2 separate regions of the Homo sapiens genome follow, and region 2 is linked to region 1. Evidence: fine-mapped expression QTL. A gene starts in region 1. The other region holds a variant in brackets. All regions are shown on one strand. Distances are between the middles of the regions.

Region 1 (16,041 bases):
GGGCCTGGGGCCCTGGCCCTCCCTGTGTGAAGAAGGCACTGACCAAACCAGCATGGGGGGGTACGTGCAAGGGTGGTTCCCAGGCCCCTGATGCATTCCCATCTCACCTTGCGGAGCTCAGCCAGCAGCCACAGTGGTGACAGCTCCCGGTGTCCTTCCAGCAGGTTGTATGCCAAATCCAGGTGCCGCAGATTCCTCAGCTGCTCTAGGCCTGGGGTGGACGCAAGAAGGAAGGAAGAGCATGTGGATGAGTACACGCAAGTGAGTGTGGTGCATGCACTGGGGGAGGTTGCAGCAGAAAGACCGGCCAGAGCACCCCTGCACTCCCCATAAGCCCTCTCAAGGCTCTAGAGGCACATGGTCCCCAGGCCAGCCCCAGCCTCACTCTCCCCCTTCCCCTCCATGCTTGCCCCATCACACACCCCCACTCACCATGCAGGCTCCGAAGCTCATTGCCTCGCAGTATCAGGACCCCCAGAGCAGCCCCTGAGGGTCCCATTCTTGGCACCAAATGCAGGCGATTATAGGAGATGTCCAGATGGTGGAGCTCACACAAATCCTGGCAGGGGTACAGGGGAGAAAAAGATTATCTCGTTGACCAAACTCTAGCCAGGGTCCTCTGAGACCTCTTCTGGACTAGGCCTCAACCTTGGCCTATATAAAACTGCACACACTCAGCACAAATGATTTCATCCACCCCTACTCCCACGTTAAAAGACTTGAACAACACCAGCACTGTTCCTAACAGTTCAAGGCCACACCCTGAGCATGGCAACTCCAAGCCCCTTAAATTCCTGCCTGGGAAAAGTCAAAGCTGCCAAAAGAATTTCCCATTTGTTTCAGCCAACTCCTGAAGATAGGGCCCCGTCTCCCAGTCTCTGTGAAAGGGTAAGGGCCTTATTTTGGTAAGTGCCAGTTAGTTAGCAAACTCAGATGGGTTTCATGTGGACCAACCTGATTTCCACTCCCCCAGCTCTGCTCAAGGCCCTACCATTCCCCTGCCCACTCCCCGCCGCCCTCTTTTAAAATGCCCAGCCGGCCAGGTGCAGTGGCTCATGCCTGTAATCCCAGCACTCTGGGAGGCCAAAGAGGGGGGATCACTTGAGGCCAGGAGTTCGAGACTCACCTGGCCAACATTGTGAAACCCCGTCTCTACTAAAAATACAAAAATTAGCTGGGCGTGGTGGCACACACTTGTAATCCCAGCTACTTGGGAGGCTGAGGCAGGAGAATCGCTTGAACCCGGGAGGCAGAGGTTACGGTGAGCCAAGATCGTGCCATTGCACTCCAGCCTGGGCAACAAGAGCGAAACTCTGTCTCATTAAAAAAAAAAAAAGGAAAAAAGTCCACTGACACTTCTGTATCTTCCAGGCTCTGTTCAGGGAAATAACCGTGACTGCAACACTGTCTATGCTATCACCACAAACATTCAAACTACAAACGAAGAAATCCATCGGTTGCCACTGCTATCCTCATTCCACCATCTAAAGAAACATAGAGCTCAACACCTAGAAATCTCAACTGGCTGCCCTCTGGACTCAGAAAATGGATTTATAGTCTGCTCCAACCATTCATCTTTGTTTCCCTTTTTGTTTCCATAGAAATGTCCCCCATTAAATGCCTGGTCACTCTCACCATCCAGCAAAATTCATCCACTACCAAGTCCCAATAAATGGCTCAGTTGGTTTTTAGTGAACAAAAGGTGATCAAGGAAGAAAAGGATTTATATTGTTCAGGGGAAAGAGGAGTGTCTCTTCTTTCCCTGAATTAGAGGAGGTTCTCACCTTGATCAAACCCTACTCAGGCTCCTCTGGGCCTTCTTTTTGACTAGGCCTCAACTTTGGCCTGTTAAGAACTGCAGACTTGTTCAGCACAAGTTCAACAAAATTCAACACAAATTATTTTTGTTGACTCCTCCAACCCCCACAGTAAAAAACCTGAACAAAAACAGCAAAGTTCTAATATCTCAAGGATGCATCCCTAGAATGGTGACTCTAGCCCCCTTAAGCTCCTGCCTGGGAAAAGTCAAGGCTGCCAAAAGAATTTCCCATTTGTTCTAGCCAACACCTGATGACAGGGCTCCCATCTCCCAGTCTCTGTGGGAAGGTAGGAGCCTAACTTTTAGCAAACCCAGAAGGGCTTCATGTGAATCAACCTCCACTTCTGCTTTTCGTACATTTCCACTTCCCTTACTCTGCTCAAGCCCTCACAGTTCCCCTTCCTATTCCCTCACTCTCCTTTTAAAATGCCCAGCCACCTCTGCACAAATTGAAGTGGCGTTCAGTTCAGGTTGCACCCTCTTCCCCGCTGCAATAGTTTATCACTGATAAAAAATCTGTCCTTACTTGGTCGGGCACGGTGGCTCACACCTGTAATCCCAGCATTTTGGGAGGCTGAGGTGGGCGGATCATGAGGTCAGGAGTTCAAGACCAGCCTGGCTAAGATGGTGAAACCCCATCTCTACTAAAAAATACAAAAATTAGCTGGGCATGGTGGCGGGCACCTGTAATCCCAGCTACTCGGGAGACTGAGGCAGGAGAACTGCTTGAACCCAGGAGGTTGAGTTTGCAGTGAGCCAAGATCACACCACTGCACTCTAGCCTGGGTGACAGAGCAAGACTCTGCCTCAAAAAAAAAAAGAAAAAAAAAATCTGTCCTTACCACTTTAACTAGTTCGGCTTTATCTCTGACAGGTGGATGGGAGGACCCAGAAGAAAGGTTCTTCATCATAATCACAAAAGCTACCAGTTTCTGAGCTAGGCACTAGACTAAGCAACATTGGGTACTTCTTCACAATCATTTTAATACTATAAAAGCAGGTATTCAGCCGGGCGTGGTGGCTCATGCCTGTAATCCCAGCATTTTGGGAGGCCAAGGCAGGTGAATTGCTTGAGGTCAGCAGTTCAAGACCAGCCTGACCAACATGGTGAAACCCCATCTCTACTAAAAATACAAAAATTAGCCAGGTGTGTTGACACGTGCCTGTAATCCCAGCTACTTGGGAGGCTGAAGCAGGAGAATTGCTTGAACCTGGGAGGCAGAGGTTGCAGTGAGCTGAGATTGCGCCACTGCACTCCAGCCTGGGTGACAGAGCGAGACTCCATCTCAAAAAAAAAAAAAAAAAAAAAAACCAGGTACTCTTGTGATTTCTACTTTACAGGTAAAGAAACCAAGAGGTAACTAACTTGCTCAAAGTTGCACAGGTATTAGAAGTTGAGATATGAACTCTGGTTTGTCTGATGCTAGTGTCTAAGCAGTGCTATCTCCCAGAATGCAGCTCCACCCTCATGGCAAGAGCAAGGTGGGAGTAAAAGCTGGTCAAGGAGAGAGAGTGAGAGCAGAGCAATCAAAGACCCATGGTGTGCCAGCTGCCAAACTGCCCATACTCACCATCAGGAATCCCTGACAGTCCTGGACTTGATTGTGGCTTAGGTTCAAGAAACGCAGAGCTGACAAGAGGCGCTGAGAGAGACGGGGAGGAGGCAGAGAATCGATGTTCACTACAATACTATCTGGTCAACCAGCTGGCCCTCCTCCCCAAAGGCCTGGCCTTGCCCTTCCTCGAAACCCTCTTCCCTCTGAGGCACTCACCAGGGAGCTGTCTAAGGCGGTCAGTGCATTGTAGCTGAAGTTGGCAGAAAGCAGAGCCAGCCAAGGGAGGGCAGAGCAGAAGTCGCCGCCGCAGGCTGAGAGGAGCTCCTGAGCAGACAGATGGGTGCTTCATTACCCCACCCTCCCCTTCCTCCCTATGCCAAGGCCAAGCTCTACCACCCAGTCACTCATTCATTTTTTATACACTGAACTCCATCTGAAGATACAGGCTTAAAGCCCAGGTCCCTGACCCAAGAACTCACTGTAGGGACAGTGGGAAGGTAGACACTAGAATATGTAATATAATATGGTAGGTACGACTATAAATATACAGGCAGTTACAGAGTGCTGCGGGAACACAGAGAGGGAGTGAGGACACTGTCTAGAGGGAAGCAGGAGGCAGGGAGAGCTGCAGAGAGGGGAGAACATCAGAGCTTGGTCTTCTACATCTCTCAAGTTGAGGTGTCTGAGCTCACCCCTCACTCTCCTTACCTCTAATGCCTGGAGGCTCCTGCTGCAAATCAGGGTCTCCAGCTGGGAGTAGATGCCTCGGAGGCCATGCAGACAGTGGAGGGGAACACCTCGGAGCTGGGACAAGGAAAGAGGAGGGAGGAAGGCAGAACCCCACAGAAGACAAAGACCTCATCCCCATCCCCTAGTTGGGAGGAGGGAGAAGACCACAAAGCCCAGCTATGATTTAGGGAAGCAGTAAATGGAAAGACAGTGGATATCACATGACTGCAGAGCAATGGGTATACTCAGGCCTGGCCTCCTCACCAAAGAGGCTCTTCTCTTTCCCATCCCCAAGGGGCTGCCTCAAGTTGGGTGCTGTGCACCAACATCCCCCCGTGTCCCCATACCTCCAGGTGCCGAAGGGATTTGAAGGGGAAAATCTTGATGGGCCCTGTGGGGCCAGGACCAGCAACATGGACCAGCTGAAAAAAAAAAAAAAACTCAATTTACTGAGGCACAGCAGATCTTCCTGCCCTCAACATTCCTTCCTTAGCACAACCACTGGTACCTCTGACACCCTCTGGATCCTGGCACTGCAGACTTCTGCACCCCTACCCTATCCCCAACTTCCATCATTCTCTTGGGCTCCTTGCACATCCTGCCTCTTCCCCACACCCAGAACCTTGAGTGAAAGTGTTTTCTGCAGCACATCGAAGAGAAACTGAAGCTGAAGAATAACAGGGGAGTCGGCAGGATGGGAGGGCAGAGCCACAAAGCCTGTCTGGCCAGGGCCCCATGGCCCCAGGTGCAGCTCAAATACGTGGTTCAGCTGTTGCAGTGTGGGAGTCAGCAGGCTCAGGGTGCTACAGCCAGACAGGACCACATCCCCTGCAGAAAAAGGGGCAAACAGGAGGGAAGACACAGTGAAAAGATTTTTCTCTTTATTCTAAGGCTCTATGATGCCAAAATATACCCACTCCAATCCATATTGTAGATCTTCTATTGCAGGATCAAATTTTCTATCTCCTTCTCAGCTCAAAAGCATTCAATGGCTCCCCTCATCTTCAAAAAAAGTCCTAACATTTCATTCAGCCTGATGAGACTGCTTGGCTACACAACTCCAACCAACTCTTCCAAATTTTCTTTCACCTTCTGCTCAAAAGAGCCTCATCTACTGACAGTGCTGGAAATACAGCCAGCTTGGTTCACAGTTCTCTCTTGTTATGAGACACCCCCTTCCACCGCCCAGCTTGAGACCAGCCTCCTCCAGGAAGCCGCCTCAAGAAGTAATACTGCTGAATTTTCATATTGCAGTCACTCATTATTACACAAAAGTTAATTGGAAGTTTTATCTTTCTTTCTTTTTCTGATTGCAAAGCACATCTGTAGAAACTTTCAAACAATACTAAAAAGTATGTCATAGAATAACTATTCATTATAGCACTAAGGCATTGTTATTGCTGTCTGTTAAAACTGCTCTCTCTAATGAGACTTTCATCCTTGAGGGCATCTTTTGATCACTCTGGTATTCATCACTGCACCTAAAAAAGTGCAGCTACAAGCTAGGCATGAAGGAATGCTTTTTTGGCTTAAAAAATATAATAAGTATGGAGTCAAAGAATGCTGCAGAAATAATACAGAAAGGTCCCCTGTATCCTTTACCCAGTTTTCCCTAATGGTTACATTTTATATAGCTATAGTACAATATCAAAGTCAGGACACTGAGCTGGTTGCCGTGGCTCAGGCCTGTAATCCCAGCACTTTGGGAGCAAGGCACTTGAGGTCAGGAGTTCAGGACCAACCTGGCCAACATGGTGAAACCCCGTCTCCACTAAAAACACAAAAAATTATTCTACGACTCTAACCTCGTCTCTACTAAAAATACAAATATTCTCAGCTGGGCATTGCGACATGCGCCTGTAATCCCAGCTACTCGAGGGGCTGAGGCCAGAGAACAGCTGGAAGCCAGGAGGCAGAGGTTGCAGTGAGCCGAAATTGAGCCATTGCACTCCAGCCTGGGTGACAGAGGTAGACTCCATCTCAAAAAAAAAAAAAAAAAAAAACAAAAACAAAAAAAAAAACACAAAGGGCAGGCGTGGTGGCTCACGCCTGTAATCCCAGCACTTTGGGAGGCCAAGGCGGGTGGATCACGAGGTCCGGAGTTAAAGACCAGCCTGGCCAATATGGTGAAACCCCGTCTCTACTAAAAATACAAAAATTAGTAGGGCATGGTGGTGCATGCCTGTAGTCCCAGCTACTCGGGAGGCTGAGGCAGAAGAATCACTTCAACCTGGGAGGGAGGCAGGGGTTGCAGTGAGCCGAGATCATACCACTGCACTCCAGCCTGGGTGACAGAGCGAGACTCCATCTCAAAAAAAAAAAAAAATTCAGGACACTGATGTTGGTACAATATGTATATATAGCTATATGCTGTTTATATAAATTCCTGCAGCCACGCAATCAAGATACAAAACTATTCTGCTGCCACAAAGCTCTTCTCCTGCTACCTCCTTGTAGTCACACATTCACACACCCACCATTCATCACTGAATAAATTAACAAGTCCTACAACCTGACATGAAGGATTCTGTATGTACTAGACACTGAGGATAGATACAGACATGGTTCAAGGACTCTTCCCACGTTCAAAGGGCCTCCTAGTTGTCTCCTCCCAGAGAAGGATATAAGACATTTGCAAAGTTATCAATACAAGCCAGGAAATGAAACTGCTACTGGCCAGGTGCTGTGGCTCACGACTTTAATCCTAGCACTTTGGGAGGCCAAGGCAGGTTAATCACTTGAGGTCAGGAGTTCAAGACCAACCTGGCCAACATGGTGAAACCCCGTCTCTACTAAAAATACAAAAATTAGCCGGTCATGGTGGTGCACACCTGTAGTCCCAGCTACTCAGGAGGCTGAGGCAGGAGAATCACTTCGTCCCAGGAGGTGGAGGTTGCAGTGAGCTGAGATTGCGCCACTGCACTCCAGCCTGGGTGACACAGCAAGACTCTGTCTCAAAAAAAAGAAAAGAAAGAAAAGAAAACTGCTATAAAGAGAGCTTCCACAGATATCGTCAATAGGAGCATGGAGTGATGGAGGACAGCTAACATTAACTGTAGTATGTACCAGATGACTTTGGTATCTCATTCAAACCTTCTCAGAATCTCTCAAAGAGAAGCACTATTAACCCCATCTTACAGATATGAAAATTGAGGTTCAAAAAAGTGAAAAATCTTGATGGAGATCATATAATTGGTAGGAAGTTACTTCTCCTATCTGATCTCAAAGCCAAGGCTTTTTCTACCACAACTAATGCCAACCAAGTATTCAACAACTACTGTGGCTCCATTATGCCCAGGCACAGTGCCAAGCATCAGGGAAATCATTACAATAACAATAGCTCCCAACTGTAAGCAGTTACTATACTTGCAGGCATTGTACTAAATACATGAATTAAAACGAATCCCCACAAATGTTAAGTACAATCACTATGCCAATCTGTGAGGAAAACTGAGCCTCAGGAAACAGTATGGCAAGTTTGAAAGAGGGTTGATATTCCAACCCAAGTGGGTCCGACTCCAAATCTCGTGCTTCTATCTACTGTATTTAGTACCTTGCTACACAATAATGATTATGACCGAGATCAGTCCCTGGTCCTGAGGGGCTTTTAGTCAGGTAATGATCACTTCCTTCTGACAGTGTCAGAGAAGGCACGGAGGGAGGGATACCGCCCTTTGGCCTCAAAGGACGGCTAGAGTTTAGGCTATCACAGGCAAAGGACACTGTAAGGGCGAACAAACCTGGGAAAAGTAAAGAAATTGAACTCTGACACCTGGTGACCCTACCAGTCGTAACTCCATGACTCTCAGGGCGTGTCTCCAGAAAGCACCACCCCCACCTCGTCCGAGGTCCGAGGCCCAGCCCAACCGGAAGTCCACTCACCGGACTCCCGCAGCAACCCCGCGAGCTTCCACAACAGGGAGTCCCTCTGAGCGGTCGTCATGGCCACGGGACGCTGGGGGGCGGAGCCTGGGGGGGGAAAGAGGAAGCGGAAGAGCCTCAGGTGGGCGGTAGTGCCAAAAGCCCAGGGCGTCCGCGCAAACCGAGGCGTCATGCGGAGAAAAAGGCGAGAAAGAAAAGAGAGGAAGAGCATCCTCCTGGCCGCCCTTTCGAGGAACATAAGTCCTGGTCAGACATACCGAACCTCCCCGTCTGGTCCTCCTACCAGCTCAGCTGCCCGGCGCCTATCAATGATGGAAAGGAAGTCCCGCCCCGGAAGAAAATCGAGCCAAGGGACGACCGGAAAACATGTCTCTGCCGCCGGAAACCGCGCCGTAGATCATGCAAACGAATCGAAAAGGGGCGGTGCGGGGGCTGTCTCCTGACCGCGGTGGTGGCTGCAGTGGTTCCCTGGGCTTCCTGGCCCGGAGCTGGGCACCCATTATTCCCCCGCCCTGCGCAGCCTGGGGCTCCCGCTTGGCTTTCGGCGAGCCTACCGCGCCGGTGAGGAAACCCTGACTCGTTTGCAAACTGGGCGGGGAAGCAAAGTTTAGAGAAATGGAGCTTTGTTAGATAAAAATTTTTTCAACGCAAACAGTCATTTTCCAGTGAAAGGAGAGCGTATCCGCCGTAGGATGGACTTAGATCGTGTAAAAGCTGAGGCCACCGAGGATATAACCTCCGGGGTCCTTTGCCTCCTTTTCCTTAGACTCCCTCCAAACTCGTGTATCTTTCCTTCAGCAGTACTGGGCTCCACGCGAACCTAGTCCTTTGTCTTTACCCTATTACCTTTCATAACATCCTAGTTGAAAAGTAGTTATTCAACCGCGTTTGAAAATGAGAACAGGTTCACAGAGGCTAGGTTACTTGCGAAGGTCGTTCAATTAGTAACCAGTAGCGCCAGGACTGCCAGTTTCTTGCTTCCGAATTCTCATGGTAGCTTTCACCAGGCTCCCCGTCAAATGCTAACGTCAACTACTGAACTAGATTAGCAAAAAGGTCTTTTAACAGAATTCCTGGTTTTCAGAGAGAGTTTCTTTCATGAAGCGCCCCATTTCTACAGAGGAAAATCAAAATGAATCCTAAGCCAGTTGAAAGGAGGGATAGGATCATAGTCATCTTTATCCCAAGTTGCCAGATTTGAAAGATTTTATTTTCTCAAGACAAAATATTTGAAATGGCAAATATTTCAAATATTTTGAATATTTGAACCACACAATTTCGCATTCATGGCATACTACTTGTGCTCTGAGCTGAAAGCCTTTTAGGTTAAATAAAGTAAGTGGAGATACATCCGAAGCAGCAGTGTTGAGCTCAGAAAAACAATACCCCAAAATACGGCGCTTTGGTATGCTGACTATTTTGAACTAAAAGAGACTGGAAGGCCTCAGGCACAGTCTCTCCGACCTTTTCCTGCCCTCCTGTCTCCCAGCCTTCTTTCTTCCCCAAGGCAAGCCATAGAAACCAGAATTCCTCTTCCCCAAGATGAGTCACAGAAACTAGAAGCCCTCTCCCCCAAAGCCAGCCATAAAACCTAAACTTCCCCCCACCTTTCTATGTAAGAGCTGGCCGTGGCCTGGCGCGGTGGCTCACGCCTGTAATCCCAGCACTTTGGGAGGCCGAGGCCAGCAGATCACCAGAGGTCGGGAGTTCGAGACCAGCCCAACCAACATGGAGAAACCCTGTGTCTTCTAAAAATACAAAATTAGCCGGGCATGGTAGTGCATGCCTGTAATCCCAGCTATTCGGGAGGCTGAGGCAGGAGAATCGCTTGAACCCGGGAGACAGAGGTTGCTGTGAGCCGAGATCACGCCATTGCACTCCAGCCTGGGCAACAGGAGGGAAACTCAGTCCAAAAAACAAGCTGGCCGTAAAGAACTTCTCTGGCCTACCTTGTCTGATAGGCCGTAAGACCCTCATTCTGGAAGAGATCCTGCCTCATACCTGGGAGGAAGGAATGCTACACAGAAAGACCTCGTTGGGTTTCCACCTGCTGTCTGTTACTATTAAGTGGCACACTTTTTGCCCAACCACATTACTGCAGGCTGTCCATTTTTCATAGAATCTAAGCATTAAAAACAAGTTTTCCCTGGCTCTTTGGGTAGCCATTTCTGAAGGCTCCCATGTCATGTAAAACTTTGATTAAATAAACTTCTTAGTTTATTTTAGATTTTTCTCTTAACCTATCTTGTTATACGAGCTCTGACCCTTATGATGAGGAAGAAAGGCATCACAACTTTTCAGCCCCTACAACAGCTAACTAGTATGCAAATATAAAGTCAGAGTAAGAGCTCAGTATATTTTGTTGAATTATTAATCCCATAACCTGACGATTGTCAGTCCCTGTTTATTAATCATCTGGAACTTAGAAGGGCAGATTCTCCCAAACAGTAACTGCCAACTCTACCCCTCTTAGGCAAGAAACAGATTCTTTTCAAGTCACTGACATTGCAGTGTCTTGAAATCTGTTTCAGCCGTGCCTTTTCAACCCATAGTTATTTTCTGAGAATTGCTCCACCCACATGGGTAGCCCCTGTAGCCAGGTTTGCTCTATATCCCTTTGCTTCTCAGAAACATGGAAGTGGACAAAGGGAGAAGCAAAGAAAGCTGAACTACAGAGGGAGAGAAAAATAGATCTACTAAGGGAAAGCAACAGGAGACTCCGTAGTTCTTGTTTCCCTCCCCCTTGTGAGGCCCACTCTCCTTTCTACCCTTGGCCTGTAGGGGAGGCCTTGGCTGCCTTCCAGAGAATTCTCCCCCGCTTTTTTTTTTTTTTTTTTTTGGCCTAAGTTAATCTGAATGTATTTCTGTAAATTGCTACCATAAGAACTTCAACTAAGACAAAACCTTTACAAAATGAAGTCTAGATTAGCAAATCTAAAAGGGAAAAAAATTCCCATTCATCATAGCAGCCAAAAAATCAATAAATTATAGATATAAATACAAATACACACATGCTTATAATATTTTGAGAAATATGCCAGATCTATGTGAAGAGAACAAGAGAACTTTAGGACATTAAAAATGACCCAGCCAGGCACAGTGGCTCACACCCAAAATCCCAGCACTTTGGGAGGCCAAGGCAAGTGAATCACTTGAGGTTAGGAGTTCGAGATCAGCCTGGCCAACATGGTGAAACCCTGTCTCTACTAAAAGTACAAAAATTAGCCAGGCGTGGTCGCAGGCACCTGTAATCCCAGCTACTCTGGAGGCTGAAGCAGGAGAATCACTTGAACCAGGGAGGCAGAGGTTGCAGTGAGCTGAGATGGCGCCATTGCACTCCAGCCTGGGCAGCAAAAGCAAAACTCCTTCTCAAAAAAAAAAAAAAAAAAAAAATTCTCTTTATTAAAATGGTGTGCAGCCTGGCACGGTGGCTCACGCCTGTAATCCCAGCACTTTGGAAGGCCGAGGCGGGCAGATCACGAGGTAAGGAGATCAAGACAATCCTGGCTAACACGGTGAAACCCCGTCTCTACTAAAAATACAAAAATTTAGCCGGGCGTGGTGGTGGGTGCCTGTAGTCCCAGCTACTCGGGAGGCTGAGACAGGAGAATGGCGTGAACCCAGGAGGCGGAGCTTGCAGTGAGCCGAGATCGCACCACTGCACTCCAGCCTGGGTGACAGAGCAAGACACCATCTCAAAAAAAAAAAAAGTATGCAATGCCATTTCAAAAATTCATGTTGCTGTAAAGTAGCATAACATGTATGGGCTGCTATTACATAATTTCATACTATCATCAATGAGTCTGTGTTTCTCGAAGACATGCTATGATATCACTCTGTTAACTTGCAAACACTCTTCTAAGTTTTAGTCTCCAGGACTGGTACTCCACCTAAAATCAGAAATGTCCAGTTGGTTCTTCTAAGCACCAACACCAGCTGCACATGACAAAGAATTCCTAGCACTCTGGTACTAGGGAGGCACTACTCATCTGCCTGGGGCTCCACGCCCATGTTATTGTGTGGAGAGAGAGCTGCTGCTGGTAGCTTCCCTACCACCCCGAGTTTCCTGGAGTAGGCTGTGCAAAGTGCTGATGATAAAAGAGGGTAAGGAAAGGTGTGCTGGTTACTAGCTTAGGTTTCGGGGATGAAAAGAAGGGAGAAGGCCGGGCGTGATGGCTCATGACTCTAATCCCAGCACTTTGAGAGGCCAAGGCAGGTGGATCACTTGAGGTCAGGAGCTCAAGACCAGCCTGGCCAACATGGCAAAATCCTGTCTCTACAAAAATTAGCCAGGCGTGGTAGTGTGCATCTGTAGTCCCAGCTATTCAGGAGGCTGAGGCAGGAGAATCGCTTGAACCCAGGAGGCGGAGGTTGCGGTGAGCTGAGATCACACTACTGCACTCCAGCCTGGGAGACAGACTGAGACTCCATCTCAAAAAAAAAAGAAAGAAAAGGAAAAAAGAAGGGAGAAGAGAGTATCTTCATACAAGAATGAAGAATGACTGCCAGCCGCATAATATAGATCTCAGATCCTGCTTATTTCTGATACCTTGAACCATGCGAGACCCAGGATCCTTGCCTACAGGGGAACAGAAGTCATATTTCACCTTTAGGATACAAGCCATTGTCCTGGGTCTAGACCTCCCTGTTCTGATGCTGCAGCCCCCAACAGAAGATCAGATAACTGAGACCTACGGATTCCACCAAAATGAAAATGTTACACTTGGGTTGGGGGTGAAGGGGGGTGAAATTGGATGATCTATTTGTTTCATCATCTTGCTATCTTTAGCTGGGCATGGTGGTGGGTGTATGTAGTCCCAGCTATTCAGGAGGCTGAGGCGAGAGGATTGCTTGAGCCCAGGAGTTCAAGGTTGCAGTGAGTTGTGATCACACCACTGCACTCCAGCCTGGGCAACAAGGTGAAAAAACTTGCTATCTTTGTGTAGTAGGAAAGGGGGAAGGATGGAAGAGAATGAAAAGGTATGATTACCTCCAAATATAGTTTTGGTAAAAAGAGTTTGTACCAGAGAGGAATCCGTATGCCTAGTAGCCACAGCCCCAGGATGAGTGGCCGGAGGTAGTTCTTTCTATAAGTAACCTTGGCTCTGCTACTAGACTTGGCCACAAAAGACTGGCCCAGGAATTAACTCAGTTACCAAAGTCAAAAACATACAGGACACATCAGCCACACTGGAGGAGGTCTGGCATGAGAACTCCGAGTTAGACCATGACCAGGCACGCTCATCAGAGCCTGGTTCCGGAAGAGATTTAATTTGAGGCACACAGAGGGAAAGCTGGGGAGGCAGAAACTAAGCTCACCGAGAAATCAGAGAAGCTGGGGCCTGAGAATGACTGACTGAAAAGAAAGCAACAGAATAACAATATTCCAGTGACCCAGCAGCCGCTCCACTCTCCCCTTATGAGAGGAGTTGACCATTCTGCATAAAATAAACTGAGTGCTTCCATGAGGAGCTCTGCAGTAAACCCGACGTTATATGAGAGTGTCTTTAATTATTTTCATTGTCTATCCCGGAAAGCCATGGAACCATTTGAGAAGGGGGTTAAGAAGGGCTATAAGAAAGACCAGAACTATGCGCTTCATTCAGGACACAGGAAATGGAGAGATGAAGACCCGAAGAATATTGTAAATAAGTAAAAAAAAAAAAAAAAAAAAAAAAAAAAAAGAAAAGAATTGGTCTTCAAAGGACAGAAACCTGATAGAAAATATGGATAGAGGTGGCTATGGAGAAGAGAGGAAAGCGGACAGAATCCGAGACAGGAAGGAAAACACAACCTGCTGTTTCAGGCATAACCCGCAGAAGGCTGGTTGGCAAAATCACCTATAGTATGTGACAAGTGTCTTCCATCTCAGTGCTCCCTACACACATGGCCAGAGAGAGGAGGGGAATGATCCACAGCAAGGGAGGAAACTGCACATAGAATAGCAGTCAGCCGAGCGCGGTGGCTCACGCCTATAATCCCAACACTTTGGGAGGCCAAGGCGGGCAGATCACGAGGTCAAGAGATTGAGACCATCCTGGCCAACATGGTGAAACCCCATCTCTACTAAAAATACAAAAATTAGCTGGGCATGGTGGTGCACGCCTGTAGTCCCAGCTACTTGGGAGGCTGAAGCGGGAGAATCACTTGAACCCGGGAGGCGGATGTTGCAGTGAGCTGAGATCATGCCACTGCACTCCAGCCTGGTGACAGAGGGAGACTCTGTCTCAAAACAAACAAACAAACAAAAGAATAGCAGCCAGCCTTGCAGTGTTAAGCATGGGCCAATGGGGGAAAGGAAACGAGAAAACTGAGATCACATGGCTTAGGGTCTCCAGGACTAGGGTAAGCGTAGAGGCTGCTTTGGACGCTCAAAACCTCTGGAGAACCACAAAGCTGGAGCTGTATTTCGGTCTTTTGTTCATTCAACAGGTATTTACTGAGCCCTGACTGTGTGCCAGATCCTGTGTTAGATTCTGGGTGAATAGGCCAGGTGTGGTGGCTCATGCCTGTAATCCCAGCACTTGTTGGGAGGCCGAGAAGGGCAGATCACCTGAGGTCAGGAGTTCGAGCCCCGCCTGGCCAACATGATGAAAGCCCATCTCTACTAAAAATACAAAATTAGCCAGACATGGTGGTGCACGCCTGTAATCCCAGCTACTCAGGAGGCTGAGGCAGGAGAATCACTTCATCCCAGGAGGTGGAGGTTGCAGTGAGCTGAGATCACGCCATTACACTGCAGCCTGGGTGACAAGAGCGAAACTCTGTCTCAAAAAAAAAAAAGGATTCTAGGTAAATACAGGAGACAAAGGTGTTCTTGTTCTCAAGAAGCTAGCCAAGTGGTGGAAGAGCAGACACCACCAGTCATGTTACATTGTATCAGCTTCCTTCTGCTGCTGCAACAGGTTACCCCAAATTTGGTTGCTTAAAATGACAAAATTTATTATCTTTACATTTCTGAAGGTCAGAAGTCCAAAATGGGTCACACTGGGTTAAAATTAAGGTGTCAGCAGGGCTGTGTTCCTTCTTTCTCGCCAGGGGAGAGCCTGTATTCTTTTTTTTTTTTTTTTTTTTTAAGACAGGGTCTCGCTTTGTTGGCTAGGCTGGAGTGCAGTAGTGTGATCATGGCCCACTGCAGCCCCAATCTCCCAGTCTCAACAGATCCTCCTGCCTCAGCCTCCCAAGCAGCTAGGACTGGATGTAAGGGTAATATGACTGCAACTTCTGTCACCCCATTGATCACCAAGGTTGATTCGGCTAATCTGGCTGGCTAGGCGGGTGTCTCCTTCCTCCCTCACCTCTCCATAGGCGTCCCTCCTGAAGCTGTGCGCTCAGTTGAAGAAGATGACCGTCCCCGATAGAGGAGGACTGGTCTTTGGTCAAGGGTATACGAGTACTGTGCACCCCTGCTAGAACCTCCAAACAAGCTCCCAAGTAGCTAGGACCACAGGTGTGCACCACCATGCCCAGCTAATTTTTTATCCTTTGATCTTTTGTAGAGATGGCTTCTTGCTATGCTGCCTATGCTGGTGTTGAACTCCTGGCCTGAAGTGATCCTCCTGTCTCAGGCTTTCAAAGTGCTGAGATTACAGGTGTGAGCCACCATGCCTGGCCAGAGAATCTGTATTCTTGTCTTTTCCAGCTTCAAGAGGCTGCCGTCTTCCCTTGCCTGTGACCCCCTTCCATCTCCAAAGCCAGCAATGGCTGCCTGAGTCTTTCTCACATCACATCACTCTGACACTAACTCTCTTGCCCCTCTCAACATTTAAGGACCCTTGTGATTACACTGGGCCCACCTGGATAATCCAGGATAATGTCCCTACTTTATGGTCAGGCCAGGTGCAGTGGCTCAGATCTGTAATCTCAGCACTTTGGGAGGCCAAGGCAGGTGGATCACTTGAGCCCAGGAGTTTGAGACCGGCCTGGTTAACATGGGGAAACCCCGTCTCTATGAAAACTACAAAAATTAGCCAAGCATGGTGGTATGCACCTACAGTCCCAGCTACTTGGGAGGCTGAGGTGGAAGGATTGCTTGAGCCTGGGAGGTCAAGGCTA
Region 2 (16,041 bases), 54 kb before region 1:
CTTTTTCCTGACGCCATGTAAAGAAGGTGCTTGCTTCTCCTTCACCTTCCACCATGATTGTAAGTTTCCTGAGGCCTCCCCAGCCACACGGAACTGTGAGTCAATTAAATCTCTTTCCTTCACCTGGGATTACAGAGGTGAGCCACCACGCCCAGCCTCAACTTTTAATTTTAGTTGATGTTAAGTAGCTGCATGTGGCTAGTGGAAATGACTCAAGCAGTACAGCCCTAAAGCATGAACAGGTGAAGGAATTAAGTGTGGCACAGCGGAGGGGGCTGGGGAATGGTGGGAGATGAACTCAGAAAGGCACAACAGGATGGAGAAGGACTTTATTGGTCATTGCAAGGACTCTGGCTTTTATCCCAAGTGAGATGGGAGCCATTGGAGGGTTCTGAGAAGAGCAGGGATATGATATGATTTCTGCTTTTAAAGGATTCCTTTAGCTATGCTTTGAGAGTAAACACAGAGGGGCTGAGGGTAGATGGAAAGAGACCAGTTGGGAGGCTGGGAGAGGCAGCCAGGTGAAAGACAGTGGTGGATCAGACCAGGATGCAGCAGTAAAGGAGATGCTAAGTGTCAGGTTAGAGATAGATTTTGAAGGTTGAGCCCCCAGGATTTCCTGGCAGATGCTGATTAAAGCATATATTAAGCTCCTAATATATGCCAGGCACTAGGTATGAACTACTTCTGATCCAGATTTGCCAGAGAAATGTCACCCAGGCTTTGACTGGTACCAGCTATTCCTAAGACTGATTGCACCACAGGGCATTTCTCACTCTCAATGTCCCACAATTTGGTCTTCAAACATTGCCTCTTCAGATCAGAGCCAATATAGCCTGCTGGCACTGTGAAATTTGTTGTTATTCTTATTATTATTCACCCAGCATCACTGCATGGTATCTACATTAAGGAAATAGATGACTTGAGTCCTCCATAAATCCTTCATTCTCCTGCTTTATTTCCCTGTCCATCACCTCCTCATTTATTCTTAATATTCAGGTTTTTGCATTCAAGGCCGGGCCAGCTCTCTTGAGGACATCCATCTTCTTCCTTGCACATCTGCCCTGTCCTCCTGAGACTCACACAGCCTGAGGATGGGAAATTGAGTCATCTGTCTTCTGTAACCATATGGATAAGATGTAGTCATTACCGTTCTTAGCATTGTTGTGCTTTGGAAGCTAATTAAGACAATTAGCTATTAAATACCAAAAACAATTAAGCTAATTGAAATAAACCATATGCAGTTTACAACCTTGCGTAGACAAAAAATTAACATGTGGCTGAATGGTAGCACTACAGACACTCCCATGCCAAAATAAATCAGGGACTATGGGAATCAAAGACGGAGGTGTCTTTGCACCCAATCCGTTTACCACCACAAAATGTTTCTCAAAAACATTCGGCTTGATTTTTGGAGGTTTCTTGTATTCTGAAAAAGAAAAAAGTGCATTCCCGTCCAGATGTTTCTTTCAGGCTGTAAAACAGCAGAATCATGCTGTTTCCCTGCCTCTGACTCAACTCTGTGGCTGGATGCAGCACAGAGGAGAAAGGCAGCTTCTCAGGGGACCTCTGAAGCCTATCTTTCAAAGTTAACCAAATCTCTAGGTGGAAAGGTGTCCCATGGTTTTAGGTTGCGACTGGAAGTTTTAGATCACATTTATAGTTTCCAGAGTGGAGCCAGAGGAGGAAAGAGAGGCTATATGGATGAGGGGTGCTCTGTAGGGAATGTGTTTATCTGGAATTTTTTCAGCTGCTTGTGCCAAACAACTCAACTAGAATTTGCCTAAACCGAAAATGGAATTTAGCTAGGGAGGACAAGCTGCAGGGACCAGGAACTTAAAGGTTCCCAGGGACTCAGCCCAAAAAAGATTCTGTCTGTCTGTCTGTCTCTTATCTCTGCCCGGTTCTGTGTTGGCCACACTGTGGCTACAGAGAGGTCCCCCCTCTCTGTGAGGCAAGGACCACGGATGCTGCCAGTGCCAGTTTCGTAACTCTAGTGGGTGAAGAGAACTCCTTAAAACCAATGACCATGTGGCCCCTTGTCTATACAGACCTGGCCTTTGGACCTTTCACCATAGCTGTAATATAGACTAGGATGGTTCATCAGATCCACAGGCCCATCTCTTCCCGCTTCCATCTCATTTATGGCCAATTAGACACACAAGGAATGGAAAAGCTTGCAGAAGAGCAAAGCTGATAACTAGCTACATGGTCCCTAGATCAAAATGCTAACAAAAGGATTTGACTTTGATGGAGAAAGATTAGAAACAGCAGTGCCTAGGGAAAAGTGTAAAAGAGATCTGAGCATTCATAAAACTCCATTTTTTTGTAGTTTTACCATCCTGCCATCTCTATGCTGGATATTAAAGAAATGAGATTATAAACAGCCAGGATTCCATTCCTCCAGCATCTGCTTCAACCACAGTCCACAACAGCCTTTTATAAAATGAGGGAAGCAATGAGGTAGAGAGGAAATAGCCTTAGGAAGAGCCAGCTTCTTCCTCCTCTATAACTGATCTGAGACATTATCCATTTTTTGATTGACATTTGCTATTTGGGAGGTGGAGTCATCCAGCATCTAAACCCACTTCCTATGCATGAGAAATTCCCTAACTTAAAAGCAGTCCCGGTAAAAGTTTAACAACCATCTACGAAAAAAAGGAGGGGAGGACCTAATTTGTAGTGTCTGCTGATTTCTCTGGTGTAAATACTCCCACAATGGCCAATTTCAAACTATTAGTGTGACATCACTGAATGCAGAATTGGGAAGAAATGTGCCATAGCACATCACTATAGAATATTTCCACCATACAGATATAACAGACATAAATAACTTCCAGAATATAGACAATAGTAAAAGTAACAAAATAATTGGGAAGTCATGAATTTTGAGTGTTTAGTACCTTTATTTTTAATATAATGTATTTACCTGTGTTTGAATATAATGTATTTATTTTTTAATTATACATTTTATTTTAAGATTAGTGTCACAACCAAAATATTGACATGGACGGGGCAAAATTAGAGAACATTTCAATCACAATAATGGTCCCCCAAGTTGCCTTTTTGTAGCTGTCCCCTCCCTAACCTCTGGAAACCACTAACCCGTTCTCTATTTCTGCAACACTGTCACTGTAAGAATATTGTATAAATGGAATCATACATTGTGTAGCCTTTTGAGAATGGCTTTTTCAACTCAGTGCTATTCTCTGGAGATACACAGTTTACTGTGTTGTGTGCGTCAAAAGCTTATTCTTTATCACTGCACCATTCACCATTCACCCATTAAAGGACATCTGCATTGTCTCAGTTTTTGGCTATTGCAAATAAAACTGCTATAAACATTTGTTTAGTTTATTGTGTGAATATAAGTCTTCCTTTCTTTGTGATAAATGCCCAAGAGTGCAATTGCTGAGTCATATGGTAGTTGTATGTTTAGGTTTTTAAGAAACTGCCAAACTGTTTTCCAGAGTGGTTGTCCCATTTTACCTTTCCACTGGTAATGTATGAGTAATCCAGTTTCTCCACATCCTGGCCAGCATTTGATGATATCACTATTTTTCATGTTTCTCTGTCTCTCTCTGTCTCTCTCTCTTTCTCTCTCTCACATCCTGATAGGTGTATGGTGATACCTCATTATGGTTTTAATTTGCATTTCCCTAATAGCTAATAAGATTGAACACCTTCTCATGTGCTTATTTGCCATCTGCATATTCTCTTCAGTAAAATTTTTCTTCATGTCTTTTGCCCATTTTTTAAGTGGATGGTTTGGTTTTTTGATGTTGAGATTGAGGAATTTTTTTTTTTTTTTTTTTTTTTTTTTTTTTTTTTTTTTTTTTTTGAGACAGACTCTTGCTCTGTTACCCAGGCTGGAGTGCAGTGGCATGATCTTGGCTCACTGCAACCTCTGCCTCCCGGATTCAAACGATTCTCCTGCCTCAGCCTCCCGAGTAGCTAGGATTACAGGCACATGCCACCACACCTGGCTAATTTTTGTATTTTTAGTAGAGATGGGGTTTCACTGTGTGAGTCAGGATGATCTCGATCTCCTGACCACGTGATCCACCCGCCTCAGCCTCCCAAAGTGCTGGGATTACAGGCATGAGCCACCATGCCTGGCCCTGAGGAATTCTTTATATAGTCAAGACACTAGTCCTTTATTAGATATGTGGTTTGCAAATATTTTCTCCCACTCTGTACTTTGTTTTTTCATCCTCTTAACAAGGTCTTTTGCAGCATAAAATTTTAAAATTTTAGTGAAGTCTATTTAATCAATTTTTTCTTTCCTTTTATGCTTTTGTTGTCAAGTCAAAGAACTCTTTGCCTAACCCTAAACCCAAAGATGTTCTCCTGTTTTCTTCTAAAAATGTTTATAGTTTCAAGTTTTACATTTAATTCTATGATCTATTTTGAGTTAATTATTGCATAAGGTATGAGATTTATATCAGAGTTTTGTTTGTTTGTGTTTGCCAATGGATGTCCTTTTGCTCCATCACCATTTGTTGAAAAGGGTATTTTTTCTTCAATGAATTACTTTTGCACCTTTTGTCAAAAATTGGTTGGGTATATTTATGTTGGTCTATTTCTAGGTTTTTAAATTCTGTTCTATCAGTCTTTGCAACTATCCCTCCACCAATACCACACAGTCTTGATTACTGTAACTATATAATAAGTCTTAAAATCAGGTAAACTGATTCATCCCACTTTATTCTCCTTTTACAAAATTATTTTAGCTATTCTGGTTTCTATGCCTTTCCATATAAATTCTAAAATAATTTTGTCTATATCTACAAAAAAGCTTTGCTTAGATTTCAATAAAAATTGCATTAAACCTATATATATTAGTTTAGGACAAATTGACAACTTTACAATGCTGAATCTTCCAATCCAGGAACGTAGTATGTCTCTCCATTTATTTAGATCTTCATTGATTTCTTTCATCAACCTTGAGTAGTTAATATAGTTTGGATATTTGTCCTCTTCAAATCTCATGTCACCTCAACGTTAGAGGTGGGGATTAGTGGGAGGTGTTTGGGTCCTGGGGGTGGATACCTCAAGAATGGGTTGGTGCCATCCTCATGGTAATGAGTGAGTTCTCACTTTATTAGTTACCACAAGATCTGGTTTTTAAACAGTGTGGCACCTCCCCACCCCCTTGCTTTCTCTATCACCTTATGACACGCCTGCTCCTCCCTTCCCTTCCACTATGATTGTAAGGTTCCTGAGGGCTTCACCAGAAGCAGATGCTGGCACATGCTTGTTGCACAGCCTGCAGCATCATGAGCCAAACAAACCTCTTTTCTTTATAAATTATCCAGTTTCAGGTATTTCTTTATAGCAACACAAAATAGACTAATACAGAAGTTTTCAGCATGTAGATTCTGTAAATTTTTATTAGATTTATAAAAAAGTATTTCACTTTTGAGTGGGCTGCATATGGTATTGTACTGTTAATTTTGGTATACATGTGTTTACTGCTAATATATAGAAATGCAATGGATTTTTGTATATTTATCTTGTATCCTATGATTCTTGTTGAACTAAATCACTTGTTCCAAAAGTTTTTTTGTTTTGTTTTCATTTTTATAGATGTCTTAGGATTTTCTATGTAGACAGTTATGTTATCTGCAAACAGGGACAATTTTTTTTCTGACCTGTATGTCTTTTGTTTCTTTTTCTTGCGTGTTGCACTAGCTAGAACTTCCAGCACTGGATTGAATAAGAGTGGTAAGAGAGGATATCCTTACCTTGTTCCCAATCTTAGGGGAAGTGCATTCACTCTCTCACCATTAAGTACAATATTAGCTGTAGATTTTGTGTAGACACCCTTTGTCAAGTTGAGGAAGCCCCCCTCCACTTCTATTTTCCTAAGAGTTATTAACATAAATGGATGTTGAATTTTGTCAGATGCATTTTCTGTGTCAATTGATAGGATCATGTGATTTTTTTAACTTGTTAACATGGTGGATTACCATAATTGATTTTTAAATACTGAAACAGCTTTTCATCTCTAATAAATTCCACATGATCATGATATATAATTTTTTTCTATATTGATGAATTATATTTGCTAATATTTTGTTAAAGATTTCTTGCATCTATATTCAGGAGAGATGCTAGTCTTTAGATTTCTTTTTTGGGGATTATTTTTGTCTGGTCTTGATATCAGAGGAATACTAGCTTCATAAAGTTCATTAGGAAGTATTACCTCCTCTTCTATTTCTGGAAGAGGTTGTGTAAAATTGGTAGCAATTCTTATTTAAATATTTAGTAACATTCTTCAGTCAAACCATCTTGGCCTGGAAATTTGGAGGTGGGGTAGGTGAGGAGGAGTTTTAATTTAAGAAATTAGCTTTGTTAATCATTACAGGGCTATTCATTAGAGGCTATTCATTACAGGGCTATTGTCTCTTTTTTTTAAGAGACAGGGTCTCACTCTGTCACTCAGACTAGAGTGCAGTGGCTTGATCACAGCTCACTGCAGCCTTAAACTCCTAGACTTCCTAGACTGCAGTGATCCTCCCATCTCAGCCTCCTGAGCAGCAGGGATTACAGGCACAAGCCATGGTGCCCAGCTTCAAATTAGCTCTTTTATATAGAGTGAGTTGTGGTCATTTGTGGTTTTTTGAGAAATGGTCTATTTCATCTAGGTCGCTAAATTTATGTGTGCAAACTTATTCATAGTATTCACTTATCAGTCTTTGATGTCTGCTGCAAGGTCTTCAGTGATATCCCATTTCTTTTTTTTTTTTTTTTTTGAGACGGAGTCTCACTCTGTCACTGAAACCTCTGTGTCCCAAGTTCAAGGAATTCTCGTGCCTCAGCCTCCCGAGTAGCTGGGATTACAGGCATGCACTACCACGCCCAGCTAATTTTTGTATTGTTAGTAGAGATGGGGTTTCACCACGTTGGCCAGGCTGGTCTCAAACTCCTGACCTCAGGTGATCCACCTGCCTCGGCCTCCCAAAGTGCTGGGATTACAGGCGTGAGCCACTGCACCCGGCCTGTTTCATTCTTGATGTTGGTAATATGTGTCCTCCTTTTTGTCAGTCTTGCTAGAGATTTGTCAATTTTATTGACCTTTTCAAAGAACAAATTCTTTGTTTCATTGATTTTCTCTATTGTTTTTCTGTTTTCAATTTTGCTTATATCTACTCTTATCTTTATTATTTCCTTCCTTCCGTTCACTTTGGGTTTAGTTTGCTTATCTTTTCTAGGTTCTTCAGGTGGGAGCTTAGATTATTAGTTTGAAACTTCTCCTCTTTTCTAATGTACACATTTAATGCTATATATTTCCCTCTCAGCATTGCTTTGGCTGTGTCCCACAAATTTTGATGTGCTATATTTTAGTTTTCATTTAGTTCAATAATTTTTTAAATTTTCCTTGAGTCTTCCCTTTTGACTCATTAATTACTTAAAATATGTTGGTTTAGTTTCCAAGTGTTTGGAGATTTTCCTATTATTTTTCTGTTATTCTAGTTTAATTCCATTGTGGTCAGAAAACTCTATATTATTTTAATTCTCTTAAGTTTGTTGCAATGTGTTTTATAGCCCAGAATAGGGTCTATCTTGGTATATGTTCCATGAACATGCAAAAAGAATTTGTATTCTGATGGTTTAGTCTTAGTGTTCTATAAATGTCAATTAAATCCTCTCAGTTGATGTTGAGTTCTTCTATATCCTTGCTGACTTTAGCTATCAATTGTTCTAGCAATTGTTGAGAGAGGGGTGTTGAAGTCTCCAGTTACAACTGTGATTTGTCTGTTTCTCTTTTCAGTTCAATTGGGTTTTGCTTCTCCTATTTTGCAGCTCTGTTGTTTGGTACATGTACATTTAGGATTGCTATGTCTTCTTGGTGAATTGACTATTTTATCATTACATAGTATCCCTCTCTGTCTCTTACTGCTGAATGATTACAAAGGTTCTGACTCCCCACTAGGCATCCTCTGACACCATCCAGTGGTGCCGAGACCAGCTGGGTCAGGGAGACCCTAACCTAGCGGCGCTAGAGGAATTAAAGAAACACACACAGAAATATAGAGGTGTGAAGTGGGAAATCAGGGGTCTCACAGCCTTCAGAGCTGAGAGCCCCGAACAGAGATTTACCCACATATTTCTTAACAGTAAACCAGTCATTAGCATGGTTTCTATAGATATTAAATTAACTAAAAGTATCCCTTATGGGAAATGAAGGGATGGGCCGAATTAATTTCAGCAGGAACACACCTTAAGACACAGATGGCTCATGCTTTTGTTTGTGGCTTAGGAATGCCTTTAAGCGGTTTTCCGCCCTAGGCGGGCCAGGTATTCCTTGCCCTCATTCACGTAAACCCAGAACCTTCCAGCTTGGGCGTTAGGGCCATTATGGACATGCTACAGTGCTGCAGAGATTTTATTTATGGCCAGTTTTGGGACCAGTTTATGGCCAGATTTTGGGGGGCTTGCTCCCAACACAGTGGGAAGGAGGAAGAGTGCCTTATTACTGCTAGATGGGGCTGGAAGTCCAGGCTCTACTTGGTCTCCTATGACATCACTTCATCGTGAGTACTGAGGTGCCTTGACAGTTTCTCAAGGTTGGAAGTATAAGCTGCCAATTTAGCCTTTGTTAGCCTGAGTTGGGATGGGGAGATCACAGATTTTTCTGCTGCATTTGGCTGTTACTGTCTGAAAGTTTTCTGTCTTGCTCTGTTTCTTCTTTCCTACCCCTTTGACTAGAGAGAGCAGACTTTGGTTGGGGCTTTTTTGCCTACACCTATTGGCATTTCTGCATTGCCAGCTTCTTCAGCTCCAAGTCTGGGATATATGACACAAAAAGAAAATACAAGGAACTCAGTAATGTATTATTCCTTGGGTCCCAAGGTCCCTAGCTGGTCTGCCTTCTTCTTGCCTCCATTCAGAGACTTATATTTCTTTTATACTTTGCAAGAGGAATAGAAACAGTATATCTACTATAATTTACTTTTTAATAATGACTATGTTTAACAACCAGTTCACAAGTCCCTGAAATTTTTACAAGCAGCTCTTGTAAGCTAGCTCCAACACATCACTACTGAGTGTCAGAGCCAGAGCTGCCTCCCACCACAGAAGCTGAAATGCCAAAAGCCTCTTTCCCAGCCTTCTAGCAACTTCGACACAGGCACATGACATAAGCCAGTCAGGAACATCCACCTGAGACCTTGTGATGGATGCAGGTATTAGTGATGGATGCAGAGAAGAGGGGCAGTGCAGAATCCTCCTGGTGGCCGTTCCAGGGGTGATATCCCCCACCAGGGGCGCAACTGTGGCATCTCACGTTCCACAGCAACAGCCACATTGCCACCGGATGTTTTCTGTGGCATGTCTGTGACCATGGTTCTGAGTTGGAGTCTCCTACCTTCCCAGTGTCTGTGAATGGCTTTTCAACAGCCCTGTTTCTGCTTAAATTAGCTGGAGCTGGCTTCTGTTTGGTGCAAATAAGAATTTTGACTGATACACATTCCCACTGGCTCTCAGCAGCAAACCCCCTGGGAAACAAAAACCTCAGCCTCTACCACAGAATGTCCTTATTCTTGCTCAGGGGAAATTATCTGAGGAATAATTAACAGCAAACAGAACAGTAGAATGTAACTTAGAAGGGCTTACTGAGAGGGACTGCTAAGACCCCAAAGCCATCACGATTTAACCTGCTTTCTTAGTTGCCAAATACCCTCCTCAGCAATTCTGATCCCCCGCACAGTAAGCGTGTGTTTAATTACAGTCTCCTGTGAGATGAGCAATTTGGCATGGTGCAGAATATACCATCTAGCCTGACCTTGGGAACAAGACAATCCAATGACACTAAAATCTTACTTTCCTTTCTCCCTTTCCCACTTCCGTTCTCTCCCCCTGCACTGCTGAAGACTCACTGGTTAGGAAAATATTTTATGTCTTATGTCCTTGAGGGTGGCTTTTGCGCACTGAAAAGACCACTCTGAGATTTACTGGGGTTTTGAAAATCAGTATTCAATTTATTAAATTTATAGATTTAGAAATTTATAGCTCTTCCTTAACGCTTTTAAAATCACCTTAGGAATCTTATTGTCCTATTTATAAGTCTAGCAAATATTAACAATCACTTTGAGAGGGTTTTGATTAATGCTTAGCCCCATTTACACACTTAGTTAATTAAAAGTCTTTAACATTTTAAATGGCACTTAATAAATTTAATAAATTCAATTCCTTTTTAAGTATTTCATCTGACTGATAAAACTTCCCAAGTACAAAAGTAATTCTTACAGATTTAATAAATTCAGCATACAAGACAGAGTGAACCTTAAATTCTCTTCAATGTCCAAACTATATGTAAACTTGGAAATATTTCAACTTATCACAAATTTCAATCAATTATTCAAGTACATACATTAAAATGAAATATTGAAGGTGGTCTAATATTCCAGTAGGCCGAATTCTCTAAAATTATGCCTACACAAATATTATATATGCACAAATTCTTTAACTTGAAAACATGAAAACTATAGTTTTGATTCCCCTAAACATTTGTGTGCTTAATTTTAAATTTTCCCAGGGCTAAAAAAATTAAACGAGATGAAAATAAATTTTCCCAGGGCTAGTAAAATGTCTATCCACAAGAGAGGTATTCCCTTCTCAGCCACCTGAGGTTGCTAATCAACCAGAGATTCTGGGTGGGATGCCGACTGCATCTTAGCTGCTGACTCTATGGACCTGTAGAGCCCTATTTCCAGTTTTTAACTTTCTAACTTAAAGATGGAGGTGGCTGAGTAGACTAGTCCCTTGATTACAAGTGATCAGTTACTAAAGGTCAAGCCAGAGTGTAGTCCATAACTCCCTATCCAGGTTCTATACCTGATTGTGTATTTATGTGACCATTAAGGCTTA[T/C]AACTACATATTTGTCCATCTATCTCTACAGAATCCTGCATCCTTTTCATGTGCTTCTTATCTCATAGGACCACACACCTCTTATAGATGTTTAAACGTCACCTAATTGAATTCTAGTGACGTCACAGCTTTGTCCAATATCCTGAGATCATTCTCCAAGTCACTGCTCACCCCCACCCCCTCACCCTACCCATCCCACCCTCTGTGGTCTCTGAGTTTCTGACTCCCCTAGGAATGCAAAAATGGACTCCCCCAGGATCTACACACCTTTTGACGTGGCGAAACTAAAGAAGAAAGTTCCTAAGCCTAGTAACTCTGCTGAGAGATTATTTGGGGATTCCTATAGCACTACAGCCACTGCTTCCCCCCTCCTGAACCCCCTGCTTCCTGAGCAAAACCACTGCAGTGATCAGGGTCTGTTGAAAGAATATGGTCTATGAAGGAGGTGCTGGAGCCAAATTCCTAATCTCTCAGAAAGATGAGGCCACTTAACCAAAGTCCAGCTAGTGCCTGAGGTGAGGCCAAAGCCGAGGATTCCTGACTGCCAGTCCCCATGTTCTGGCCACTCAACTGTAATGCCATCAACAACAGCAAAGCCAGCAGAGCAAGAGAGGTGCTCACAGATCACAGTCCCAACCAAGCAGCCTAAACATTAGAACGTGCTACGTTCAGCCCTTTCTTTTTTTTTTTTTTTAACTTTAAGTTTCAGAATACATGTGCAGAACATGCAGGTTTGTTATATAGGTATACGTGTGTCATGGTAGTCTGCTGCACCTATCAACCCATCACCTAATGCATTAGCTATTTGTCCTGATGCTCTCCCTCCCCTCACCCACCACCAACCCAACAGGCCCTGATGTGTATTGTTCCCCTTCCTAAGTCCATGCGTTTATGTGCAGCCCTTTCTGTTGCTTGATAAACAGAATAGAAATAGGCATGGGTCCTGCCCTCAAGCTTACTTTCTAAAATAAATATGCATACTGTGTATTTGCATTTTCATACCAAGGAGAAGCAATAATAAGAAATAACTTTCAACCACAGTGGAAATTGTAGTGGAAATCAACCATAGGAAAGAATATATTGGTTTAGGACAATGGTTCTTAAACCTGACTCCATATTAGAATCTCTGGGGTTTTGAGGGGATGTCGGGGGAGGGGAATGTTTAATAAAATACCAGTGTGAGCCTGACATGGTGGCTCACACCTGTAATCCCTGCACTTTGGGAGGCCAAGGCTGGAGAATCAGTTGAGCTCAGTTCAAGACCAGCCTGGACAACATAGTGAGACCCTATTTCTACAAAAAATAAAAATTAATTAATGTAATTTAATGCCAGTGTGAACCTGTAGAGATGAGGCTCAGACACTGATATGTTTTGAAACACTCCAGGTGATTCCAGCGCTTAACCAGAGCTAAGATCCTCCGACTTGAAGCAATGATTTCTGACATTTTAGTCCTTTCCCTGGCATTGTCACAATTTCTTGCTGTGTATGCTGTATTAGTCCATTCTTGCACTGCTATAAAGAAATACCTGAAACTGGGGCCAGGTGCAGTGGCTCACGCCTGTAATCCTAGCACTTTGGGAGGCCAAGGTGGGTGGATCACTTGAGGTCAGGAGTTCGAAACCAGTCTGGCCAACATGGCAAAACCCCATCTCTACTAAAAATACAAAAATTAGCCCGGCATGGTGGCGCACACCTGTAATCCCAGCTACTCTGGAGGCTGAGACATGAGAATTGCTTGAACCCGGGAGGTAGAGGTTGCAGTGAGCCAAGATGGCACCACTGCACTCCAGCCTGGGTGACAGAGTGAGACTCTGTCTTGAAAAAAAAAAAAGAAAGAAAGAAAAGAAAAGAAAAAAAAGAAATTCCTGGAACTGGGTAATTTATAAAGAAAAGAGGTTTAATTGGCTCGTGGTTCTGCAGGTTGTACAGGAAACACAGTGGCTCTGCTTCTGGGGAGACCTCAGGAAACTTACAATCATAGCAGAAGGTGAAGGAGAAGCAGACATGTCTTAGATGGCCAGAGCAGGGGTAAGAGAGAGAGGGGGGAGGTGCGACACACTTTTAAATGACCAGATCTCATGAAACCTCACTCACTATCACAAAAGCACCAAGGGGGAATCTGTCCTCATCATCCAATCACCTCTCACTAGGCCCCACCTCCAACACTGGGGATTGCAGTTCAACATGAGATTTGGGCAGGAACACAGATCCAAACCATATCATATGCCTACTAACTGTACAGTTATAAAGTTAGTACTTTTCCTTTAAATCAATTCACTAGTTTTAACATATGTATTTAGACTTATCCTACACAATACTGTCTGCAAAATTATGGGGCTCAAGTACTCATTGTATTTTTTTCTAAAACACATGAAAATATATAACTGTGACAGCTAAACTATCAAAACCACACCTAAAATCATCTCACACACCACTACTGGTATCCTTCCCCACTTGGGGAAATATTGCCTAAGGACTCCTCTGATCTCAGAGAAATGTTCCCCACTTCTGGGCTCTTTTCAGTAGTTTTGAGGACTTGCTGCTTTATATTTGTTGACACAACTTAGTTATTTTAAAATGTTGTTTGCTGATTGGGTACAGTGTATACGGCTCGGGTGATGGGTGCACCAAAAGCTCAGGAATCACCTCTCAAGAAGTTATCCATGTAACCAAACACCACCTGTTCCCCAAAACCTATTGAAGTAAAAATAATTTTAAAAATTAAGTTTAAAATATTGTTTGCTGTGTGGGCCACATTCGTAGAACAAATCCACCTATCTCAAGAGCCTGATATCCTGACCAGCTGCTCCGGACCTTATAGTCTAGGCTGGATGTCCCTGGAAGAGACACCACTTCCTGAGAGTGTGTCCTTCCTAAGCTCCCCCAACCCACCTTCTCTCTCCCAAGCCTAGAAAAGCTGCATGAGCTCCCTGGTGGCCCTAGAGCGCAAGGACCGCTATGGTCTCTCTTATGATAACCAGTTGTCACAGACAAGGACGCACTGCTCACTGGATCTAAATGTGGTGGAGACTGTGACCTCTTGGTCCTTCTTTCTCTGCCAACTGCTCACCCCCTTACCCTCCATGCACCCCTGTGGCCAGGCACTGTGGGAGGCATTACGAGTACAAAGGTGACTCAGGCCAGGTCTCTGCCCATCTCACAGCCTATAGGGAGACAGACAAGAACACGCAATGGGCGTGCAGTGAGAGAGGAGGCGTGGCAGGGGATGCTCAGGGACTCACGAATGAAAGTCTGGTTTTGCACCCTCCTCCACGCTCCCCTCACCCCCACCTTCCCACCAGCTCTGAGCCCTTGCTCCCAGCCCCTTCCTCATCTCCAGCTGTGCCCCACCCCCTCTTTGTCCCTCCTCTCCCATGGTCCTAAGCCTTGTCCCTGGAATTGCTGGCATTAAAGAGCTCCCTGCTCCTCCCCTCATCTCCCAAACCCAACTGTGACTCATCCACCATCCAGAGAACAACCCAGTGGCTGTCCGCTTAGTCAGCACTTAATAAAGCATTGTTCAGTAAAAAGAAACAGTTCCAACAAAATTAAAAATAATCTCAGCAGTAGGCTCAAATATTAAATCTTCCTTCCAGAACATAAATCCTACAAACACTGGAGTCTGCTCTTTGCACAAGTGGTGAATCACAATTATATAATTTATTTATCTGGAAACTACATTCCTCACTTTGCATTTCCTTTTTTGCCACACTGGATTCAATCCACCATTCCCTACTTGCCCAAAATCTGTTTTATTGTTGTTTTCGGCAATGGCTTAATTGCCAGCTGCATGGGCAGCGCTCAGCGCCAGTGCCCTTGAGTTCTGTGTCACCTTTCCTTTGCTGCTCAGAATTCCCTTTGAGAGCTCCAAGTGTCAACAGGCATGATCATTATTTGAGTCACCTGATAAGATACAAGAAGAAATGTCACACAGGCTGCCAAATGGGACACATTATTGCCACGTTCTGTGCCCTAAAGGAGGGGCCTAGGGCAGTCCCAGCAGATGGTCTATGAGCTCTGACAGCCAGACGCTGTCACAAGGGCATCAGATATCTTGAGTGAGCCGAATCCTCAGCATGAACAAGAAAGTGACAGCCGCCCTCTTTGCCCAAAGTAAAAGAATGAGCTAGCACTCCTCAGGGCCTGAAGTGGGCCTGCACTTGTCCGGGGATAATGAAAGCTTTGGGCAGCTACCCAAGATGTGGCCATAACCCCACTCGGAAAGCAGTAAGGGGCGGGGGAAATAGCGACAGGCCGGATGTCCTTACTGAAGGGCTGGTGCACGTGCACGTTCCCAAAGCCGCTTCCAGTCCAGAGCAGATGGCAGAGAGGCCGGATGTTCGAAAATACAATGGCCTTTGTCCCCTTTTTAGTAACTGTCCTGTCCTACCCCCCAGAGCTGGGCCATCAGGGCCGGCTGGGGCTCCCCTCCACTAACTCTCCTCTGCACCTTGAAGAGGGCCTGAGTTGAGGGCCCCAGCACTCCGAGAGGAGAAGCTCAGAGGCCCGGTAAAGAGAAAGTCAGAGGAAACACCGGGGCTACAAAGGGCTTCAGGACAAACTCTGAATGTCCCCATATGACACGCTCTCTGGCCAGCCAGGCCCCAGGCCAGTCCCGGTTGCCTTTCTGTGGGTTTGCCGTGTATCTTGTCCGCCAGGTTATTTCTGGCAAAACTGAGACTGTTGCACAAGGAGTGGCCTCGGGAATCCCAGAACTGCCTCTCTAAGCCAGCAGAATCTAAAATGGTCCAGGGTCCCCAAATCCGGCATCACCCTGGCGTCTAAGGGATTGGGCTGCTATCTCTGCTCCTCGGAAGGCCAGAGATCAAGAAAAGAAGAGAGACGTTTTCCATTCCCTCTGTGGCCCCACAGCCTCTGATTTCTCCAGTAGCTACAATGGAGCTCATCCCCTGTGTCACACAGCCAAGCTGGGTCTCTCTTTCCTCTCCTATCCCTCTGGGTCTCCATCCCTGGCAGCCATTTTGGTTGCTGCAGCGTCCTGGGTCTTCTCAACCCTCCATGGTCCCCCTGAGTGTGCTGGGTGTGTTGGGTGAGCTCAGAATGTTAGCTAACCCTCGCCTCCTGCCCTTCCTAAACTACGGCCGCCCTCCCTTGCCATAGATGGGTCGTCTTTAAATGAGTAAGGCTGCCAGGGTGACAAGCG

The links. PIP is the estimated chance that this variant, and not a neighbour inherited with it, causes the effect.
Region 2: its variant is the best candidate, but not a certain one, in a credible set for the expression of STK11IP in whole blood (TOPMed, PIP 0.88).

What each region holds. Positions count from the first base shown.
Region 1 is chr2:219,590,126-219,606,166 of GRCh38, reverse strand. STK11IP (serine/threonine kinase 11 interacting protein) reads right to left here and starts at 8,310. Exons shown (of 25, transcript NM_052902.4): 1 at 8,244-8,310; 2 at 7,987-8,073; 3 at 4,727-4,932; 4 at 4,452-4,526; 5 at 4,084-4,179; 6 at 3,592-3,699; 7 at 3,391-3,462; 8 at 433-559; 9 at 108-211. The coding sequence starts at 8,047. It also overlaps the pseudogene RN7SKP213. RefSeq lists enhancers at 1-1,105, 7,869-7,928, 8,139-8,358.
Region 2 is chr2:219,644,112-219,660,152 of GRCh38, reverse strand. No RefSeq gene overlaps it. Among named protein-coding and RNA genes, the nearest start is that of SLC4A3, 25 kb to the right of the region's middle. RefSeq lists enhancers at 13,564-14,333, 14,334-15,104, 15,876-16,041. The variant T/C (reference allele first, on the strand shown) is at 10,876.